Linked DNA regions of Homo sapiens. The protein of the gene in region 2 interacts with the protein of the main gene of each other region in a pairwise test. Each region holds a gene or a part of one and is shown on either strand. Other genes may lie near its edges.

What was found.
Region 1: the proteins of APTX (region 2) and PNMA3 interact in binary tests that used the Homo sapiens proteins (3 or more experiments, as listed by UniProt).
Region 3: the proteins of APTX (region 2) and FLAD1 interact in binary tests that used the Homo sapiens proteins (3 or more experiments, as listed by UniProt).

Annotation. Positions count from the first base shown.
Region 1 is NC_000023.11:153,052,120-153,059,738, forward strand, and holds the start of PNMA3 (paraneoplastic antigen Ma3), read left to right. Parts: upstream 1-4,350; 5' UTR 4,351-4,519; intron 4,520-4,830; 5' UTR 4,831-4,936; coding exon 4,937-6,328; 3' UTR 6,329-6,362; coding exon of another isoform or gene 6,363-6,425; 3' UTR 6,426-7,619.
Region 2 is NC_000009.12:32,991,121-32,998,872, reverse strand, and holds part of APTX (aprataxin), read left to right. Parts: intron 1-1,524; exon of another isoform or gene 1,525-1,630; intron 1,631-7,752. UniProt on the Homo sapiens protein: DNA-binding protein involved in single-strand DNA break repair, double-strand DNA break repair and base excision repair.
Region 3 is NC_000001.11:154,978,355-154,986,612, reverse strand, and holds the start of FLAD1 (FAD synthase), read right to left. Parts: upstream 3,270-8,258; 5' UTR 2,919-3,269; coding exon 2,547-2,918; intron 1-2,546. Other genes in the region: CKS1B (cyclin-dependent kinases regulatory subunit 1), read right to left, coding at 7,836-7,888. UniProt on the Homo sapiens protein: Catalyzes the adenylation of flavin mononucleotide (FMN) to form flavin adenine dinucleotide (FAD) coenzyme.

The sequences.
Region 1 (7,619 bases), on a different chromosome or scaffold from region 2:
ACAGTTATCAAAAATGCAGACACTTCACGTGGCATCTCCAGGACCTTCAGCTTTCTGTGCCTGGTCTGTTTTGTCATCTCCATTTTCTGCAGGGTTATTCCCCTCCCTGCCAGCATTAGCATTTACCCTTTTCCCTATGGGTACCTTCACTCACTTTTTTGCAGGGGCCTCTTTAGGCTTAGACTCTGGCTTTGGAGAAGCAGGTTTAGCAGACAACCTCTTGGATCTTTTCTGTGGTTTGTCCTTCATGTTGGATTTATCTCCTTTAGCATCCCCTTCAGCCTTTCTCTTGGGGATGGTGGTGATAGTGGCGGGACATAGGCTCTGGGGGAGGGATGCAGTGGTGCACGGGCTTTGGCCACTCTGGGGAGTCGTTCTTGTCTCTTTACTTCCAGATTCTTTTTTTTATTTTTTTATTTTTTTTATCTTATAAGTAATTCCTTTGCTCTCCTCTGGCTCTCATGTATCCTCATTATTAAATAGTTATGCCATCTAGTCCAGATTCCATTTCAGAAACCTTTCAGCATTTTTACCATTCGAAGATTTGCAGTTTAATCTTTTTATTAGTTTTCTAGAGTGACTGTACCAAAGTACCACACTAGGTGGCTAAAGCAATAGAAATGGAATGTCTCACATTTCTGGAGTCCAGAAGACCATCAAAGTATTGTCAGTGTTGGTTCCTTCTGAGAGTGGTGGGGGAGAATCTGCTCAGAGACCTTTCTCCTAGCTTCTGGGGCTTTACTGCCAATCTTTGGCATTCACTGGTTTGTGGAAGCATCACCCCAATCTCTGCCTTCATCTTCACATGGTGTTCTCCCTGAGCATCTTCATGTTTCTGTGTTCAAATTTCCTTGCTATAAGGACACTTGTCACATTGGATTAGGGGCCCACACCACTCCAGCTTGATTTCATGTTAACTAAGTACATCTACAATGACCCTATTTTCAAATAAGGTCACATTCTGAGGTGCTAAGGATTAGGACTTCACCATATGAATTGAGGTATGGGGAGACATAATTCAACCCATAACAGTCTTAAATTAAGAGGTGTAATTTCTGTCCATTTGTGTATTTTCCCAGAGAAATTTCTTAAAGTCCAAATAAAAAACTTAATTGGTCCAATAATGATGATTCAGAGGAGCTATTGTTATCTGAGCTTCTATAAAAATTAGCGTGCTTTGGGCTGCAAGTACCAAAAGTGTGACTCAATGCCAGCCATATGAATGAACCATCTTGGGTGCCCAGCCCTGTTGAGTCTTTAGACTTGATTCTCAACTCATATCTCAATGCAACCACATGAGAGATCCCATGAGTGAACTGCCCAGCTAAACCTTCTCTCAATTTCTCACTTACAAAATTGTGAGCAGAATAAAATGGTTGTTTTAAGCCAGTATGTTTTGGGTAGCTGGTTGTGCAGGAATAGTAACTTAATGGGAAGAAATATCCAAAGTAAATAAATAACTCCTATGAAAGAATTAAAAAAGAGAAGCACCCCAGTTGAGAATTGAGACAAAAATAGGAATTTCAATCAAGAGGAATAAAAAATGCCCCCCCAACCAAGGTATTAAATCTAATTCATAATCATAGAAATTCTACATAAAAGCATAATAACAATTGACATTCCTCAGGATTAACAACATTTAAGTCACACAATATGAAATGTTAGTGATGATATGGAGCTTGATGGAAACATAAATTTGTACAGCAACCCAGAAGACAATTTGGCAATGTCTCTGAATACTAAAGATAGTCTTTGATTCAGCAATGCCATGGCTAGGTACATAACTTAGAGGAACTCTCCAAGAATATTTAAAGCAGCATTGTTTCTGATAGTAAAAATGGGAAACAACTTAAATATCTGTCAATGGGAAAATTGATAAATTTTGGTACACACACACACACAATGGAATACTATACAGAAGTGAAAATTGAGGAATAAAATTTGCTTATATCAAAATGGTGATTCTCACAAACAATAATTAGTTAATACAGTGATGACTATGAATAGTATGATATCATTTCTGCCAAGTGTAAAAGAGACAAAGACAATTTTTTAGGGATATAGTCATTTGCAGAAAAAGCACGAAGAAATGCACATGGAGGACAAGAGTGGGAGACAACAGGGAAGGAATCTGCAGGCGCTTACCCTCACTGGCAGTGTTTTATGTCTTCATCCAGTTACTACATTCAGGAGTACTGGATGTACTTTTTAAGTACGTTTTGTATGTTAAATATTGCAGAATGTATTTTATAAAGTATTTAATTACCAGAAACTCTTTAAAAAATTCCCAGGCCTGTTTCAGACTCAGCAGATCAGATTGCAGAGGTGGGGCCCATGAATCTGCCCCTTTTGTGACCCCGATAGTCACTACTGGTCTAAGCCAGGGCAAGGCCACCCCGGTGGAGGTTGCTTCCTTCATGCTGTATTATGTTTTTCACTTTACAAGTAATAATGTTTATCCATCAGTTCCCCAACTTTGGTGCTGCTGTGTTATCTACCATGCAAGGAGATGGGGAAGCAAAAGTAATTAAGACATTTCCACTGGTTTCAAGGGCAAAGGTTAACTCCAATATAAAGGAGTTCTAAAACTTTTCAAATTGGACATATTCACATCTATTGTCTTGATACCAGTGTTTCCAAATCCTTTTTTCCCAATGCCCAGAACATCCACAGATCACTGCGTCTGTCTGGGAACTTCACAGGCTTCTTTCCGGAGACATTCCAGACACGCCCCTCTGCCTTGGCATGAATACTTGGCATCTCCCCTTGACATCTCAAGCTTTGTCATTTACTCACTGTGTGACCTTGGGCCAGTAGTGTCCCTTCTCTGAACCTCTGTTTCCACCCCTGCAAGTTGGGCAGATGAAGGTTCAGTTTGAAGCTGGTTGAGCCCTTGGAGTGACAAAGCAAGGGACTGTGAATGGACAAAAATGAGAGAAATAAATTCTAATAGGCATGAAGCAACCAGGGGAGAAATAGTCCCAATTCTACCCAAAGACTGATGGGCACTAATTTAGAATCCAGTCTCAATTCTACCTTCAATACGGTGTGTGACCTTGAAAATGTCTCTTAATCTCTCTGAGCCTCATGAGTCAAATCAGGATAATGTTAATACCTGCTTCAGAGTTCTGGTGAGGAGCAAATGAAATAACTCCTGTAAAGATGTTTCAGGAATTCTGTCTGACCAGGAAAAAGCCCTTGGGGCCATTTCTTCTTGGTCCCTGACAAGTGCCAGGCTGACGAGCAGAACTCAGGGTGGGGCAGGAAGTCAGTGGACAGTTTTGTGCCCCACTCACTGCAAGGTGGCCTCCCAGACTTGGCTGGATGGGTGAACCTGGCCTGAAAATCAACCACAAGCCCCTTTTCGTTGTGTTTGGAGAGGAGCTGAAGCTGTGTGAATAGGAGTTGAGCATGCGGCTGGCAGAGCAGGCAGGACCCACAGAACACCTGGGCCCACTGCCTGAGGGACAGTCACTCCCTTCTTCATTTGGCTGCTGCCCTGGGATCAAACGGATACAATAGAACCCACGGCGCACGGCTGCCAAGGAAGGGCAGGCCCAAGGGATTGGGCTCCAAGTCCTGGAAGTGGTTTCCCAAGTCACTAGATTTGCAGCGCACAAAACCGGAAAGGTCCCGGTAAACCTGTCCACTGGCACCTGGGCAGCGAAGCGCTTTGGCCGGAGGGCCTCAGGTCCCAGCAGCGGGATGGACAGCGGGGAGATGGCTGACCCTCCTTGGGGTGGTGTGCGTGACCTGCATGAGTGCCTGGGGCATCTCCTGCACGGAATGGCACCCGCACCAGGTGCCCCTGGCCTCGCCAGCCAGAGGACCAGTCCTGGACGGGGAGGGGGAGGACAAGAGCAGGTGAACAGGCCCCAGAACCCGGCTCCCTGACCCTGGCCATAATGCAGAGCTGCCTGGCGCACCTCAGACCACTCCCTGGCCCTCTGGTGGGCACGCCGGGGTGCAGACCCCTCGCCCCGCTGGCACCTCCGTGGCACGTGCGGGAGGGGCAGGAGCCGGGACCAGGAACCGCTGTGGTGAGAGCCAAAGGCACGGGGACTGGCCGCCACAGACCTTTGGCCACCGCAGTGGGGATGGGGGTGGGCGGGCGCTTGTGTGCCCGGGGGCCCGGGGGCCCCCGTGGCGGGGGGGCTAGGGGAGAGGAGCAGGTGACGTCACCCGGGGACCTGGGGCCCCCAGGGGCGGCGGCGAGAGCCCGACCTCGTGACCCGTCCGCGCCAATGGCCCTGCGGTCTCCCGGACGACGCGGAGGGGTCCGCGCTGCACCGCCGCCGCGCCCCCGCCCCGTGTCCGCACTGCAGAGAGCCGCGGCGAGCAGGCGCCGGCGCACTGGCCCACGTGCTGCGCGAGCGAGGGAGAGCCACAGTCTGAGCGAACGTCCGCGCTGGGAGCCAGGGGTGCCCGACCCCCGTCCGCCGCCGCCGCCGCCGCCGCGCATAGCCCCCGGAGAGCCCTCTGGGGACCCCGACCAGAAGGGACCTTGCCCTGGGAGAAGGTAACAGACCCACCTGGGGAGGGAGACGCTGGGCCCCGGGAGACTCCGCCGCCCCTCGCCTGTCCGCCCTATCAGAACTGAAGCAGCCTGCAGGGCAGGGGTCCAGGGTCCTGGGGCAGCGCGGGGAGGGGGCTGAGGCCCGCAGAGACCCCACGGGGGGTGGGGGTGGGGGGCTGGGCAGGGGCGGGGCCTGGCTGCAGAGGCGCCGCCCGGGGAGGAGGGCGGCTGGGGGTGGGGGTGGGGGTGGGCGTGGATGTGGGCGTGCGGAGAGGTGGGCATTAACCTCGCTCTCGCCCTGCTCGCATTCACAGGCTGTGGAGACCTGGGCCTTCTGCGATCACCCTAGGAGTTGATCCAGATATGTGCCTCACGCCCTGATCACTCCCCCCAAATTAGTATCCGCAGAGATTCGAGGACATGCCGTTGACCTTGTTACAGGACTGGTGTCGGGGGGAACACCTGAACACCCGGAGGTGCATGCTCATCCTGGGGATCCCCGAGGACTGTGGCGAGGATGAGTTTGAGGAGACACTCCAGGAGGCTTGCAGGCACCTGGGCAGATACAGGGTGATTGGCAGGATGTTTAGGAGGGAGGAGAACGCCCAGGCGATTCTACTGGAGCTGGCACAAGATATCGACTATGCTTTGCTCCCAAGGGAAATACCAGGAAAGGGGGGGCCCTGGGAAGTGATTGTAAAACCCCGTAACTCAGATGGGGAATTTCTCAACAGACTGAACCGCTTCTTAGAGGAGGAGAGGCGGACCGTGTCAGATATGAACCGAGTCCTCGGGTCGGACACCAATTGTTCGGCTCCAAGAGTGACTATATCACCAGAGTTCTGGACCTGGGCCCAGACTCTGGGGGCAGCAGTGCAGCCTCTGCTAGAACAAATGTTGTACCGAGAACTAAGAGTGTTTTCTGGGAACACCATATCCATCCCAGGTGCACTGGCCTTTGATGCCTGGCTTGAGCACACCACTGAGATGCTACAGATGTGGCAGGTGCCCGAGGGGGAAAAGAGGCGGAGGCTGATGGAATGCTTACGGGGCCCTGCTCTCCAGGTGGTCAGTGGGCTCCGGGCCAGCAATGCTTCCATAACTGTGGAGGAGTGCCTGGCTGCCTTGCAGCAGGTGTTCGGACCTGTGGAGAGCCATAAAATTGCCCAGGTGAAGTTGTGTAAAGCCTATCAGGAGGCAGGAGAGAAAGTATCTAGCTTTGTGTTACGTTTGGAACCCCTGCTCCAAAGAGCTGTAGAAAACAATGTGGTATCACGTAGAAACGTGAATCAGACTCGCCTGAAACGAGTCTTAAGTGGGGCCACCCTTCCTGACAAACTCCGAGATAAGCTTAAGCTGATGAAACAGCGAAGGAAGCCTCCTGGTTTCCTGGCCCTGGTGAAGCTCCTGCGTGAGGAGGAGGAATGGGAGGCCACTTTAGGTCCAGATAGGGAGAGTCTGGAGGGGCTGGAAGTAGCCCCAAGGCCACCTGCCAGGATCACTGGGGTTGGGGCAGTACCTCTCCCTGCCTCTGGCAACAGTTTTGATGCGAGGCCTTCCCAGGGCTACCGGCGCCGGAGGGGCAGAGGCCAACACCGAAGGGGTGGTGTGGCAAGGGCTGGCTCTCGAGGCTCAAGAAAACGGAAACGCCACACATTCTGCTATAGCTGTGGGGAAGACGGCCACATCAGGGTACAGTGCATCAACCCCTCCAACCTGCTCTTGGTAAAGCAGAAGAAACAGGCTGCAGTTGAGTCGGGAAACGGGAACTGGGCTTGGGACAAGAGCCATCCCAAGTCCAAGGCCAAGTAGGCTCGGGAGAACAGGGCAACATTTCCTACCACAGGCCAAGGAGACAAAAGAGATATTGGAAGGAGGGGAAAGAGAAGCCCAGACAAACAGCAGATGAGTTGAGTGGGGCAGAGGGACAGGGCAGCCAGACCAAGGCCAAGCCTTCTCACCCTTGGCCAGCTGGAAGGGACTTCAGCAACCAAGACCACCTGGCAACAGGCTCAGTGGGGGTCAGGTCCAGGTCCCCGAAGAGGTGCTGGAGAGGAAAGCAGGGAGCCACTGCATCCAGCACATGGGGTGCCTGGGCCTCAGATGGGGACCCCAAAGAAGCAGAAGCTGAAGAAGGTACGGCTGGGGGTTCTGTCCTGCTCATCCAACCACCCCTAAATACCCACCCTGTGGACTTTGAGCTGAACATGCCCACTGGCCCCCAGGCCACATGGGACCTGGAGGAGCCTACCTGGGGCCTGCCCCTGCCAGCAGGTGCCAGGGCTGGTGAGGAAGAGCTGGGGGGCAGAGGTAAAGCCCTGCAGGGGAGGCCACAGGGTCCATCCCGTCTTCAGGATCATCTACACTGCACTAGGGGAGCCCCAGGAAGGCAGCACCCTGGAGGCCCTGTGCCAGTGAGGACAGGAGACCCTAAGGCCCCGGGAGCCCAGTGCCAGCCAGAGGTTGTGCAGGCAAGGAGACCAAAGATTGATGAGAAGACCCCCAGCAGGGGTACTGGGTACCCGGCAGGCCAGTGCCCTCACAGTTGACTTGGACCAGGGTGGCTGTGAAGGGAAGTCTTTGTTGCAAAGGAGGAGGAAAAGGGAGGACTTGGTAGGGTTTTGTTTCTTCTGCTTGTTTCTGTACAGGGCCACCAGACTCCTGGAGAGATCAAGCAAGGAGAACCTGGGGCTGCCATGGCCAAAGCAACTCAACAGATGCCAATGCCAATTCCAAGGCCAGCCACAACCCTGCCACCTTGGGGAATCCAGCCTGGAGGCATCCCCTAAGCAGCCAGCCATGGCCTGGGTGGAGGCACCTGAAGACGTCTGTCCCAAACTCCCCCAGCCCTGAGCTGGGAGATGACAGGGGGAAAGAGGCCCTCTCAAGGGTGCCAGATGCCTGGGTCTCCCAAGAGGGGTCCCCCAACTCACTGTTCCCGGGACAGGCTGCCCCCTGTTCCAGGAAGCTCATCCTCACCTGTGTAGGCCCCTGTAGTGACCCACGCGTCCAGCAGACGCCCACCCACCGCTAGCCGTTGTTCCTGTGCAAAGTAGTGTGCTATGCACCCACCCAGGTGGCCGCCTCTGGGCCCAAGGCACAT
Region 2 (7,752 bases):
TTTATACTTTAAGTTCTGGGATACATGTGCAGAACGTGCATGTTTGTTACATAGGTGTATACTAAGTGCCATAGTGGTTTGCTGCACCCATCAACCTGTCATCTACATTAGGTATTTCTCCTAATGCTATCCCTCCCCTAGCCCCTCACCCCCTGACACGCCCCAGTGTGTGATGTTCCCCTCCCTCTGCCCATGTGTTCTCATTGTTCAACTCCCACTTATGAGTGAGAACATGTGGTGTTTGGTTTTCTGTTCCTGTGTTAGTTTGCTGAGAATGATGGTTTCCAGCTTCATCCATGTCCCTGCAAAGGACATGAACTCATTCTTTTTTATGGCTGTATAATATTCCATGGTATATATGTGCCACATTTTCTTTATCCAGTCTATCATTGATGGGCATTTGGGTTGGTTCCAACTCTTTGCTATTGTTAATAGTGCTGCAATAAACATACATGTGGATGTGAAGCTTGACCAGTTTTTATAAAATGATTATACCTATGTGACCACCATCCAGATTAGGTTACAGATACATAATATTACCAGCATTCAGAATGAAAACTGTTCTTTTCATTCTGTACACATTGCCTGAGTGAACCCATCAGCTGGCTTGGTTTTAACTACCTCCTACATGCCCCCAAATTGAAATTGTCAGCTTAGACCTCTCTGAGCTTTACCCTCACATCTGACTATCCTCCTGGACAGCTCTGCCTGCAAGTCCCACAGACACTTCAAATTCAGATGACTGAAACTGAACTCAGTGTCTTTCCTGGACTTAACTCTTATCACATTCATCACTAAGTCCTGATAGTTTTACCCCCTAAACATCTCTCAAATCTGTGCAGTCTTCTCCATCTCTACTGTTGTCCTTTTACCTGCAATATCATGGCCTTCTAACTGATTTCCCTGCTTCTAGGCCTGTTCCCCCATATCTTTTCTTCACATTACTCCCCTCCACCCCCAGATGGTCTTTGGAAACAAGTCTGTATCAAATTCCTGCTTAATCTTTAAAGATCTGTCCATGCATTCATCCATTCTTTTCTCTAATTCATTCAGCAAACATTCATTGTCTACTGGCTTGCAAAATCCATTGAAAGTTCTAAAGTTTGAGCTTCTCAGCCAGGGCTCTGCCTGTTCTGAACCCTGCCTGTATCTCCAGCCTCTTCTCTGCCTCATGCTTTAGGTTCCAGCAACACTGAATGGCATCTTCATGGGTACTGTGCTATTTCTTCTTTGTGTACTTGCCCTTGTTCTCTTTGCTTGGAATCTTCTCCCTGTTTCCTTTCTCCACCTCCTGCTCCTCACCTAATTAGGCTGCTCCTTTTCACCTAATTAACCCAGTTTATAAATGGGACTCAGTTATAAAGTTTAGGTCCACCTCCTCCAGGAAATTTTTTCCTGACACCTCCTTCCTCCCAATCTCGGTTGGGTACTCTAGCATTGTGCTTCCACCCTTTGCACAGAGCAATCATCATGTTTACCACATCTACTATTAACATAATTGTTTGTGTTTTTCTCCTCCACAAGATTTATTTTTTTTAGATGAGGTGTTGCTGTGTTGCCCAAGCTGGACTTGAACCCCTAGGCTCAAGCAATCCTTCCACCTCAGTCTCCCAAGTAGCAGGGACTACAGGTACGTGCCACCATGCCTGGCTAAGGCTGAGTTTTTTGAAGGCTGGGCTCATATATTATCTCTTTATTCCCAGTACTAGAATGGCACAAGATACACAGGAGTGTAGTAATTTTGACTGAACGATCAAATGAGTGAAGCCAAAAGTTATATGATGCAGTGGTTAAGAACCCATTCTTTGGAATTCAAATTGTAGTTCTGGCACATATTGGCTATGTGACTTGAACATGTTACTTATCTTCTCATCCTGAATTTTCTCTTCTCAGAATGGAGTTGTGAGTGTTAAAATGAGACCATGTAAGTAAGACATTTAGCATAGTGCCTAGCACATAGTATGCACTTGATAAAGGTGCTGAAAACCGGGGGATCCTGGAGTAAAGACTAGGCCTGGCCCAGGACAGTGATCTCCCGAAACCCCTCCTCATTGTTTTGTGAATGCGTAGGCAGTGATGCAGTCTGTTAGCAGGGAGATTATAATCTTGTTTGGAAAGTAGAATTACATCCACATTAAACAGTCAGAGAACTGTGAAGGTAGTTTGACCACATCCAATAATAAGATGTAGAGAAGAGAAGACAGCTCAATGAAGGCTTTAGGGAGGAGGTGAGGCTTGAAAGTTAAATAGGATTTGGGTTTTAGGAGAAAGGAATACCAGGAGACCATATTAAGAATGACTTAGGCCAGGTGTGGCTCCTACCTGTAATCCGTGCACTTTGGGAGGTCAAGACAGGAGGATTGCTTGAGGCCAGGAGTTTCAGACCAGTGTAGGCAACATAGTGAGAACCCCATCTCAAAATAAAATAAATTAGCAAGGCATGGTGGTGTGTGTCTGTAGTCCCAGCTACTCCAGAGGCTGAGGCTGGAGGACCACTTTAGCCCAAGGAAGTTGAGGCTGCAGTGAGCTGTGATGACGCCCTGCACCCAATCTGGGCAACAGAGTGAGACCCTGTCTCAGAAAAAAAAAAAAAAGAGCGATTTATTTGGGAGATGCTGTTCAGTATATTATACTTGAAGGGTATACATACAGGCATACCTCAGAGACGTGGGTTTGGTTCTAGACAACTGCAATAAAGTGAACATATGCATGTTTTGGTTTCTTAGTGCATATAAAAGTTATGTTTATACTATACTGTAGTCTGTTAAGTGTGCAATAGCATTATGGCTGAACAAACAATGTACACACCTTAATTAAAAGTACTTTGCTAAAAATTGCTAATAGTCACCTGAGCCTTCAGTGAGTTGTGATCTTTTTGCTGATGTAGGGGGGGTCTTGCCTTGACGTTGGTGGCTGCTGACTGATCAGGGTCATAGTTGCTGAAGGTTTGGATGTCTGTGGCAATTTCTTTTTTTTTTTTTTTTTGAGACGGAGACTCGCTCTGTCGCCCAGGCTGGAGTGCAGTGGCGCGATCTCGGTTCACTGCAAGCTCCGCCTCCCGGATTCACACCATTCTCCTGCCTCAGTCTCCAGAGTAGCTGGGACTACAGGTGCCCGCCACCACGCCCGGCTAATTTTTTTGTATTTTTAGTAGAGACTGGGTTTCACCGTGTTAGCCAGGATGGTCTCGATCTCCTGACCTCGTGATCCGCCCGCCTTGGCCTCCCAAAGTGCTGGGATTACAGGTGTGAGCCATAACACCCAGCCCTTTGTTGGCGTTTTGGTAATGTTCATTACATCTTCATCAGGAATAGATTTCATCTCAAGAGACCGTTTTCTTTGCACATCCATAAGAAGCAACTCCTCATCCATTAAAGTATGATCATGAGATTGCAGCATTTCAGTCACATCTTCAGGTTCTACTTATAATTTTAGTTCTCTTTATTTCTGCTATATTGGGAGTGACTTCCTCCATTGAAGTCTTGAACCCCTGAAAGTCATCCATAAGGGTTGGAATCAACTTTTTCCAAACTCCTGTTTATGTTAATATTTTGACCTCCTCCCATAAATTACAGATGTTCTTAAGGGCATCTAGAATGGTTGTATCCTTTTCAGAAGGTTTTCAATTTACTTTTTCCAGGTCCATCAGAAGAATCACAGTTGATAGCAGCTATACCCTTATGAAATGTATTTCTTAATTAATAACACTTGAAAGTCAGAATTACTCCTTGATCCATGGGCTGCAGAATGGATGTTGTTTTATCAAGCACGAAAACAATATTTATCTCCCTGTATAATATATCTCCATCAGGGATCTTGGGTGCATTGTCAATGAGCAGTAATATTTTGAAAGGAATCTTTTTTTTATGAGCAGTAGTTCTTAACAGAGATCTTAAAATATTCAGTCAGTCATGCTGTCGTCCAGGCTTTGTTGTTCCATTTATAGAGCACAGGCAGAGTGGACTGAGTATAATTCTTAAGGGCCTTAGGATTTCTGAAATGGTAAATGAGCGTTGGCTTCAGTTTAAAGTCTCCATCTGCATTAGTCCCTAACAAGACAGCCTGTCCTTGAAGCTTTGAAGTCAGGCATTGACTTCTCTCTACCTGTGAAAGTCCTAGATGGCATTTTCTTCCAGTAGCATCAAAGATCAAAGATCACTGATCACAGATCATTGTAACAGATATAATAATAACGAAAAAGTTTGAAATATTGTGAGAATTACTAAAATGTGACACAGAGACCTGAAGTGAGCACATGCTGTTGGAAAAATGGCACTGAAAGACTTGCTTGACACAGATTTGCCACAAACTGTCAATTTGTAAAAAATGCAATATCTTTCAAATGTAATAGAGCAGAGCACAAAGCAGGTATGCCAGTATGTATGTGTTTCTTGGGGAAGAGAGGAGAGAGAGGGATGGGCAAGTGGGACTAGTTCTGTGAAGAGGAACGGGAGGTGAAATACATAAGCACTGTGGAGTTACAGTATGATGAGCTTAACTTCAGGCCTGAGGGACTTGAGATGGATCAGGGCAGGGCAAGTTTCCAGGACTGTGGTGGATATTATGGTAGCCCCCCAGCCACGTGGAGTTATTTAACTATTAAGTAAAAAATGTAGTTTCTCTGTTGTACTAGCTACATTTTAGATGCTCGATTGTCACGTGGTGGGTAATTTATTGGACAGTTCAGGTTTAGAACATTTCCGTCATTGCAGAAAATTCTATTGGACAGCACTATTTGAGGTTACCTGATTTCTGGCCTTGTGTGGTCTATCAGATCACTTGAGTTCTTTAAGGAATAATCAGAATTTCTTTCTGACGGATCCCCTCAACTCTAGAATGAAAGATATAGAGCTGGGCCGGGCGCGGTGGCTCACGCCTGTAATCCCAGCACTTTGGGAGGCCGAGGTGGGCGGATCGCCTGACATCAGGAGTTCGAGACCAGCCTGGCCAACATGGTGAAACCCCGTCTCTATTAAAAATACAAAAAGTAGTCAGGTGTGGTAATGCACCCCTGTAATCCCAGCTGCTCAGGAGGCTGAGGCAGGAGAATTGCTTGAACCCATGAGGTGGAGTTTGCAGTGAGCTGAGATTGCGCCACTGCATTCCAGCCTGGGCAACAGCAAAACTCTGTCTCAAAAAAAAAAAAAAAAAAAGATATAGAGGTGAAAAATAGAGAATTGGGATTTATCCACCTAGATGTGAGAATGGATGGGATTGCCCAAAGAGAGGAACAGAGCATTCCATCGTAAGAAGAGCCATAGAAGGAAGGGAGAGAGAAGGCAGGAAAGAAAACTGGGATAATTATTACTCTCATGCAGAGAGTAAATAGCATTTGATAATTCACTTGTAAATATTTATTGTATGCCCGCTGTATGCCAAGTGTTAGATTAGGTGCTACAGATATATTGATAAGCGAAAATGGACATGACCTCTATTGTCATAGTTTTCAGTTTATGGAGTTTTACTGGAGGGACTGGGTTGAAGATTCAGGAACACCCATCCTTCTGCACTTGCCATATTGTAAAACACTCCATTTCTAAAAGTTGGAATTGGAGGCTGAAACGGGTGAAGTTACTATTTAAGGTTGGTTACATAACTGTTGTGCAGTCACTACTTCAGCTTCTCAGGAAGTAGTAAAAAGGAACACCATAACTTGAGAACTTTGGGGGAATAAAGTATCTGTATTGATGGAGGGCAGAAAGGGTAGTTCTTATTATCCTGCATCTGCCAGCCATGCTCTCTGCTGCTCACTGGATTCCTCTCTTGCCCTGCTCTCAAAATCTGTTCTCTTCTGGCTTCTCTTATTGTCAGTATGAGTAGTCAGTCACCACATATTTCCCAATGCCTAGTGAAGACATATTTCACTTCTCAGTCTGTTACCTGCTCATTCATCTGTTTCCAGCAAGTGCAAACAGATGCCCCTTGGAACGCATAGCATTTAAAAGTGGGACCTGCCCATAACACCATCATCATTTGAGGCTCCAGGTTTAGGATTTTAGATTTATAGCTGACTCTTCGTGCACCTGCATCAGCTCCTTCACAGAGACTTGCTGAACTGCCTTTTTGACCTCTCTGGCTCACGTTATATTAACAGCCTCCTCACTAATCTCTGACTCTGGATTTCTCCATGCTAGACTGCCTACACACAGCTGTTAAGTGTTCTTTGGATGCTGTTGTTTTATCTTACTGTGAAGCTCAAAACCTGGCAGTTGTCTCCTCTTGATTATGGTAAATGTAAACTTTTCAGCCTAGTATTCTTTCAACACCTCTGTCTTTTTTTGTGACTCTCCGAGGCAGCTCCTCTGGTTCAGCCAACTAAGTCTGCTTTTACCCCGACCTATGGCTTGCCATTGCCGAAATCTGTGTTGTCACTTGTGCTTTTTAAAATGGAATGGCCCCTCCCACTCCATTTCTTCTTTATCAGTCCCCTTGGCTCCTAGCCATCTCTAACCAGGAGGTTTCTGGAAGCCTGTACTGGCTAATACAGGACTTTTTACCTCCTTAGTACTCATATACTCGCACTAATCTTATTCATTTGAATTTGCATCTCCTCAGCTGTCATTTGCTCACTTTGCCTTGCATTGTCTTGTCTTTGCAGATGGTAATGAAACTGATTTTTAAAAATCGGGTTTCTTTTTTCTTTGCTTATGGACATGAAACTTGTGCAGAGGGCATATGTGCTGCCTTGACTATAGGCAGGTTTCCGGGAGAGGCATGTTAGAGGCTTGAGCACTGATAAGAGTCTGGAGTCTAGAGAGGCAATCTCTCTCTGCCCATAATTCCCTGTTTCACCTCATTGGGTGATCTCATCCTCTCTCTCTTTGCCTCAGCCTCTGTGACATGTTGATGCCTCTCAAATATATGCATTTAGTCCATTCCCCTCTCTTGAGCTTCATACCCACATATCACAGCTTGAGTCTTGGATCTTCCACAGGCAACTTAAAATAATTACATTTCAATATGAAATTGGTCCTTCTCTCTTCACTTTCCTTTTTATCCCCAAATTATGTCTCCTTGTGTATTTTTCATTTTTGTTAATGGGCATCTTCCAAATTTGAAGTCTTTGGTGAGTGTCTCGCCTTTTTTTTTTTTTCTTGAGATGGAGCCTTGCCCTATCGCCCAGGCTGGAATACAATGGTGCGATCTCTGCTCACTGCAACCTCCGCCTCCTGGGTTCAAGCAATTTTCCTGCCTCAGCCTCCCGAGTAGGTGGGAGGCACCTGCCACCACACCTGGCTAATTTTTGTATTTTTAGTAGAGATAGGGTTTTACCACGTTGGCTAGGCTGGTCACAAACTCCTGACCTCGTGATCCGCCTGCCTTGGGCTCCCAAAGTGCTGGGATTACAGGCCTGAGACACCGCACCTGGCCAGTGTGTCCTTTTATTCCTTTGTCATTCCCCAAATGTCATCAGTAATTAAGTATGTCTTCCAGATTTCTCCTGGCTCTTCTTGCTCTCCATCCCCTTTGCTTCGGCCATTGTTGAGGTCTCATCTCTCTTCTGAATTTCTTGTCTCTTTCTCTTTTACTGATAGTCCACATGGCCATAAGGGTTGTTTTTCAAAAGAATATCAGCACTTCCATTGTTTTGCGCGTTGCGTATTGCACAAAATTGTCACATTCACACTTTAGAAATTGTAGGTTTGCGGCCGGGCACGGTGGCTCATGCCTGTAATCCCAGCACTTTGGGAGGCCGAGGCAGGCGGATCACCTGAGGCCAGGAGGTCGAGACCAGACTGACCAACATGGAGA
Region 3 (8,258 bases), on a different chromosome or scaffold from region 2:
ATAGCGAGAACCCCGTTTATAAAACAAATGCACACAGAAAAATAAAATTTTAAAGAAGAAAAAAAGTGCCAACTTCGTGGGATTTTTGTGTGGGGTTGTTGTGAAGATTAGTAAAATCACATATATGTGATGTATAGGACACTACCAGACTCTAGTAGGCACTTAAAATATAGGGGTCACCAGCCTGGCCAAAATGGTGAAACTCTGTCTCTACTAAAAATACAAAAAATTAGCCAGTCGTGGTGGCGGGCGCCTGTAGTCCCAGCTACTCGGGAGGCTGAGGCAGGAGAATGGCGTGAACCCGGGAGGCGGAGCTTGCAGTGAGCCGAGACCGCGCCACTGCACTCCAGCCTGGGTGACAGAGCGAGACTCCGTCTCAAAACAAACAAACAAAAACCCCACAAAAATTAGCCAGGCGTGGTGGCGGGTGCCTGTAATCTCAGCTACTCGGGAGACTGAGGTGAGATAATTGCCTGAACCTAGGAGGCAGAGGTTGCAGTGAGCTGAGATTGCGCCATTTGCGCTCCAGCGTGAGCAGCAGGAGCGAAACTCCGTCACACACACACACACACACACACACACACACACACACAGCCGGGCGCAGTGGCTCATGCCTCCCAGCACTTTGGGAGGCTGAAGCGGGTGGATCACCTGAGGTCAGGAGTTCGAGACCAGCCTGACCAACATGGAGAAACCCCGTCTCTACTAAAAATACAAAAATTAACCGGGCGTGGTGGCCCATGCTTGTAATCCCAGCTACTCGGGAAGCTGAGGCAGGAGAGTCGCTTGAACCCAGGAGGCGGAGGTTACGGTGAGCCAAGATCGAGCCATTGCACTCCAGCCTGGGCAACAAAAGTGAAACTCTGTCTCAAAAAAAAAAAAAAAAAAAAAAAAAATTGGGGTCAGGGCCAGGTGAGGTGGCTCACGCCTGTAATCCCAACATTTTGGGAGGCTGAGGTGGGTGGATCACTTGAGGTCAGGAGTTCGAGACCAGCCTGGCCAACATGGCGAAACCCCATCCGTCCCTACTAAAAATACAAAAATTAGCCAGGTGTGGTGGCACATGCCTGTAGTCCCAGCCACTTGGGAGGCTGAGACAGGAGAATTGCTTGAACCTGGGAGGTGGAGGTTGCAGTGAGCCAAAATTGATCACGCCACTGCACTCCAACCTGGGCAACAGAACAAGACTCTGTCTAAAAAAAAAAAAAGGGTCTATTAAGGCTGAGTGCAGTGGCTCATGCCTGTAATCCCAACTACTCGGGTGGCTGAGGCATGAGAACTGCTTGAACGCGAGAGGTGGAGGTGCAGTCAGCTGAGATCCCACCAATGCACTCCAGCCTGGGCAACAGAGTGAGACTATCTAAAAAAAAAAAACAAAAAAAACAAAAAAAACACAAATTTACAAAGAATATTAAAAAAGATTATTATTAAAACTTGACATTTGGCCAAGCTCAGTGGTTCATGCCTATAATCCCAGCAAGGTGTGGGAGGATTGCTTGAGCCCAGGAGTTTGAGACCAGCCTGGGCAACATAGTGAGACCGTTTCTGAAAAAAAAAAAAAAAAAAAAAAAAAAAAAAAAATTAGCCAGGTGTGGCGGCTAACACCTGTAGTCACAGCAACTCCAGATGCTGAGGCAGGAGGACTGCTTGAGCCTGGAAGATGGAGGCTTCAGTGAGCTGTGACTGTGCCACTGCACTCCAGCCTAGGTGACAGAGCAAAATCTTGTCTCAAAAACAAAAAAACCCGTGTCATCTGTTATGTCCTCTAGTAAGACTTTCCTGATCATTCGGAGGGGATTCATCCCTTCTAGTACCTTCCTTCTAGCTCACTTATCCACTACGCTGAGTACCTTGAGTCATTTCCAAAAAGGCTGGGTAAAACTCTTTTTTTTTTTTTTTTTTTTGAGACGGAGTTTCGCTCTTGTTGCCCAGGCTGGAGTGCAATGGCACGATCTCAGCTCACTGCAACCTCCGCCTCCCACGTTCAAGCAATTCTCCTGCCTCAGCCTGCCAAGTAGCTGGGATTACAGGCATGCACCACCACGCCTGGCTAATTTTGTATTTTTAGTAGAGATGGGGTTTCTCCATGTTGAGGCTGGTCTCGAACTCCTGAACTCGTGATCCACCCGCCTCGGCCTCCCAAAGTGCTGGGATTACATGCGTGAGCCACCGCACCCGGCCAAAACTCTTAAATATACAATACACACACCTGTACCTCCTCTACTCGAGGGGCTTCCTGTCATTGTTGTGTAGCTCCTCTGCCCTCTACCATACTGCTTGGTAAATTGCAATGACCTTTTTATTTTTCTTTTTTTCAATCAGCTCTCTCAGGTTGAAAAATTGTAGGGACTTTGCTACAAGTTTTTCAGTAGAGTAATTGAAAGAATGAGGGTTAATTTTCCTCCAATATGCTGGATTCACTCCAGGATCCTACTGCAGCAAAGAGGCTCCCACCCTGTTTCACCTCCTTCCATGGAGGGATGTGCAGCAGGCCCTTAAGGACAGGAGAACGCAGCGCCCTCCCCCCTTTTCTGTCCCAGACACACCTTAAGGATCTCATCTCCAACAATGATGATGCCAGCCGTCACGCTGCGCCCCGGAGAAAGTTCAGAGGCCCTAGATGTCATGGTCCTGCCTTCTCTGCCCCTCTGCAAGGCCCTCCAGTAGCCACCCAGACCCCCAAATAGGGGTCGCAAGCACGGGGGGCCTGCCAGGTCTACAGGGCACTGGGGGCCATAGCCTGGGAACAGGGGGTCCTGGGTCGAGGGAACCTGGAGAAGCCAGAAAAGACAATGGGGGAGAGCAGGCGTGCGCGTGCTTCCTTCGAGGAAGACCCTAGTCTTCTCTAACCAGATCCTTGACAAGCGACTCCTTTGTTCCTGCCTCTGGAATAAACGTGTTCCCAAATCCCAACCCATGTCCTTTTAAATGTCTTGCTTAGCTCTAGTCTTAAAAACTTCTTCTCTCTTGAGAACCTACCACTTTAAGTGTCTTCCGTTTGCTGAGCTGGTCTCCTCAAGTGTCTGCTCTACCTTGGGCATCCGTACCCCTTTAAATGTCTACCTTATCCTGGGCCTTGGCCCTTTTCAATGCATTCGCTCTCCACCCCGGACCAAAATCCCGTCTCTTTCTACTTCAGGCTTCTGCACCCTTTCTAGCCCAGAATCCCTTCTTCCCACCAAGCTTCAGATTACTGAGCCCTCTTAGACTCTCACCTGCCTGTTCTGCCCCTTCACCGGCTCTTTCCCTTGTTCCTTTCCTCATGTCCCGGGGCAGCTTCCGTACTTAAAGTCCCGCCTTGCACCTAGCTGACATTGAATGGTGATTTTGGCTGTCGCTTAGACTCTTCCAGGGTCCCATTGGTGTATTCAACTGTCGCTCTCAGGCTTTAGCCAGTGGATGGGAGCAGGGCCGGATTGTTATAGGCGACAACCACGTGGTCACTTCTCGCCCGGAAATACGGGGGCCGGACCTTAGCCCACGGTCGGGGGCGGGACCTCGGGAGTTTAGGGCGGGAAAGGAGCCGTAGTTAAAGGTGCTGTAAGGCCCTCGGGGAGTTTCTGGTGCTGGATTCAAATAATTGTTATGCATGTGTTGCTTTGTTTTGTTTTGTTTAATGGGTCAGTTAGCCATGGTTTAAGCTGTTTTCATTCACCGTGACTCTAACACTAGGCTAAGGGCTTTTACTGGAGTGAGAAAGCATCTTATTTATAGCAGAAGGAAGTTGGAGGGACACCGAGAAAGATTATTACCACTGTCTGTCGGATATGAAGACCCTGGAGTAGGTGAGCTTTTGATGTGTGGAACCTTAATTTATCTCTAGTATAGTAGACAAAACGAATTACTTAAATCTCTTTGACAAGAAAGAGTCCAAAAACCCTCTCTTCCTCCACCTTGCTCCAGATGGTGCTTAGTTCAAATGACCTTTCCCAGTAATTGGTCTTGTAGGTGCAAATGAGGCAGCGAATAGGGAGTGCCTTACATGTTTACTCTGGATCCTCACATCATCCGAGCTTACCCCCATTTCAGTTGCCTTTGTTCTAAAAGTACATCTTAAACTTTTTTCCAACAATAATCTGGGGATCTTTTCATATGCAGATTGATTCAGTAGGTTTGGGTGGGGCCTGAGATCTGCATTTAGCTAGTTCCCATGTGATGGTGATCCCACTGCTCTATGGACTACATTTTGAATGGTAAGGGCCCGAATTCATTCTTTGTTTTTTTGAGACGGAGTCTCCCTCTGTCACCCAGGCTGGAGTGCAGTGGCGCGATCTCGGCTCACTGCAAGCTCCGCCTCCCGGGTTCACGCCATTCTCCTGCCTCAGCCTCCCGAGTAGCTGGGACTACAGGCGCCCGCCACCATGCCCGGCTTTTTTTTAAAAATTTTTTTATTTTCATTTTTTTTTTAGTAGAGACGGGGTTTCACTGTGTTAGCCAGCATGGTCTCGATCTCCTGACCTCGTGATCCGCCCGCCTCGGCCTCCCAAAGTGCTGTGATTACAGGCGTGAGCCACCGCGCCGGGCCGAATTCATTCTTTGTAGGACTGGTAAACCACACCTTGCCAAATTTTACTCTTCAAAACCCTTGGTCGGGCGCAGCACTTTGGGAGTCTGAGGAGGGAGGATTGCTTGAGTTCTCTCAATTGAAAAAAAGAAAAAAAGGCCGGGCGCGGTGACTCACGCCTGTAATCCCAGCACTTTGGGAGGCCGAGGCGGGCGGATCACCTGAGGTCAGGAGCTGGAGACCAGCCTGATCAACATGGAGAAACCCCGTCTCTACTAAAAACACAAAAAATTAGCCGGGCGTGGTGGCGGGAGCCTGTAGTCCCAGCTACTCAGGAGGCTGAGGCAGGAGAATGGCGTGAACCCGGGAGGCGCAGCTTGCAGTGAGCCGAGATTGTGTCACTGCACTCCAGCCTGGGCGACAGAACGAGGCTCCATCAAAAAGAAAAAAAATACCCTGTAAGATACACATCATGCTCATTTTACAGATGAGGAACAGGCTCAGAAAGGTGAAGGGATGCCACACAACCACAAAACACAGTGAATGGTGGACCCAGGTGATCAGGTGTCTAGACCATTCTTTTAAGTAATAAGCCCCCCCTCCCTTTTTTTTTTTTGAACCAGGGTCTCTCTGTTGCCCAGGCTCGAGTGCAGTGGCGCAAGCACCGTTCACTGCAGCCTCGACCTCCTGGGCTCAAGTGATCCTCCCATCTCAGACTCCAGAGTAACTGGGACCACAGGGGCGCCCCACCATGCCTGGCTAATTTTTGTATTTTTAGTAGAGACGGAGTTTGGTCATGTTGCGCAGGCTGGTCTTGAACTCCTGGGCTCAAGTGATTCCCTGCCTTGGCCTCCCAAAGTATTGGGATTACAGGTGTGAGCCCCCGTACTTGGCCCTCATTTCTTTCAATTATAAAAAGTCAGCTCTTTGAAAAAAAAAAAAAGGGCAAAACAAGAATTCCACTTGCCTAGTAAACCACATGTTCCAATATCTTTATTAGCAATACAGGTGATATTTGATCCCCTCCCAAAACAGAATACCAAGACTGTTCCAGTATTTTCCTAGTGGATTCTCAAGCTTAAGTGTACATCAGAATCAGCTGGAGAGCTTGTTAAAACATTGCTGTGCCCAATCCTGAGTTTAGGATTCAGTAGGTCTAGGTTGTTGCCCAATAATTTGCATTTCTAATGAATTTTCCCGATGTTGATGCCTGCTATTTTAGGAATAAGTGGATGGAAGACAGGAAAAATGGGGGAGATTAATATCCTTACTTAGTACTAGTATTTTTTTTTCTTTTTTTTTTGAGGCGGAGTCTGGCTCTGTCGCCTAGGCTGGAGTGCAGTGGCGCAATCTCGGCTCACTGCAAGCTCCGCCTCCCGAGTTCACGCCATTCTCCTGCCTTAGCCTCCCGAGTAGCTGGGACTACAGGCGCCCACCGCCTTGCCCAGCTAATTTTTTTGTATTTTTAGTAGAGACAGGGTTTCACCATGTTAGCCAGGATGGTCTCGATCTCCTGACCTCATGATCCGCCAGCCTCGGCCTCCCAAAGTGCTGTGATTACAGGCGTGAGCCACGACGCCCGGCCACTTAGTACTACTGTTTTGTTAGACTAGAGGGGAAGTTATTATTCTGTGGAATGTTTTTTTTTTAAATTGAGACACAGCTTCTGTCGCCCAGGCTGAGTGCAGTGGTGTGATCTTGGCTCACTTTCACCTCTGCCTCTCGGGTTCAAGCGATCCTCTCACCTCAGCCTCCTGAGTAGCAGGGATTACAGGCACACACCACGCCCGGCTAATTTATTTTTATTTTTTTGAGACAGAGTTTCACTCTTGTTGCCCAAGCTGAAGTGCAATAGCGTGATCTCAGCTCACTGCAACCTCTGCCTCCCAGGTTCAAGTGATTCTCCTGCCTCAGCCTCCGGAGTAGCTGGGATTACAGGCGTGTGCCACCACGCCCGGCTAATTTTGTTTTAGTAGAGATGGGGTTTCACCATGTTGGCCAGGCTGGTTTCAAACTTCTGACCTCAGGTGATCCACCCACCTCAGCCTCCCAAAGTGCTGGGATTACAGGCATGAGCCACTGCACCCAGCCTAATTTTTGTATTTTTAATAGAGACGGGAGTTTCACCATGTTGGCCAGGCTGGTCTCGAACTCCTGACCTCAAGTGATCTGCCCTCCTTAGCCTCCCAAAATGCTGGGATTACAGGTGTGAGCCACCACGTGTGGCCTGGAATGTTTTCTTAAACAGCTACATTTTGCACCTGTTTTCTCAAAGCTTAGTTCTTTACCTACCTGCATAAGATGCCTGAAATCTTTACCCCCAGTCCACACTCCAGACCAATTAAGAATCCTTAAGAATGACTCAGGCAGGCATCAGTACTTGTAAAGCTCCCCAGGTGATTCCAACGCCCAAGCCAAGTTAAGAACAGCTGAAAACCTTCCCCAACCAAGGGGCACAGTGAATAGGTCATAGATATGCCTATTATTCCTATTAGGAATTGGGACACACAAGCAGCCCCTGACTGACAGCATCCTTTTATCCATGTGTGCCATTCAAATATTGGGACTATGTTAAAGGCAGCACCCCGACTGTAGGAAGCAGTTCATTTGTTTGGATGAGATGAAGTTGTCCCTATATAACCTCTACCTCAGGCTAGTAGTTAGAGTGAAATATATTTCAGTAGATGTTTGACAGCAAGTCTGCTTAAAGTAGATTAAAAACCAGTTATCTCAATGTTAAACCTCATTATCAGCAAAGAGCTGAGCTTCATTATCAAACTGAAGGGCATATAATTAGAACCATGATATTGATGATGCTCACCCTGAGTGAGGGGGAAAAAACCCGTACAATTACAGCACTAGATTATAAAAACTTCCTCTTTAATCAAGGCTTTTAACATGAACAGATTTCTTGAATAAAATGGAAAGTTTCCAGTACACTGAAACATAAATCCGCAAGTCACCACACATACAACACCCGGCAGGAAAAAACAAAAACAGCAAGTTTACATGATCCCTGTAACAGCCATGGTCTCAAACTCAGATGCTTCCTCCATCTGCCAAGTGTGTTCTGGATACAGAGCACATCGTGGCTTCTGGGGTCACACTCAGCTTAGGCTGTGGGTCCACAGAGCACTCATCTGGCTGGGCTATGGTGGTGGTGGCTCTACTCAAGAAGCAAAGCAGTTACCAGCACATTCAAACAGTGTATTGAACATCTTTTAAATATCAAAGTGAGAAACAAGAAGGCAACATAATAATGTTATCAGAAAGATGTTAGGAAGTAAGGACAGCTGTGTAAAGCTTGAGGCTGAAAAGTAGCTTGCCAGCTTCATTTCTTTGGTTTCTTGGGTAGTGGGCGCCGGAACAGCAAGATGTGAGGTTCTGAAAGAGTGAGGGAAATCTAAGAGACAAGCTCACACCATTCTATGTACAACCTATAGTGTATTCCACTACCACCTCCCCAGCTATCACCCACTCAGATCTTTATAACTAAATAAAGACTTAAGCATATGGCCTTAGAAGCAGACCCAGAAGTCTGGACTGTCTGCCAAGTACAGAATTGTTAATATCAGTTCTTTTGCTATGTTTATACAGCCCCAGGGTGTCCCTTATTAGTTTTGCCTGGCAGCTGGGTGTCTGGTGTCTTATCAATAAATATACTTTCCTTTGCTTATTTAGAACACATCCAAGAATGTTTTCGATGGAGAATGAGGCAGGGGCTATGATCAGGCTATATGTGGCCTTAAAAAGA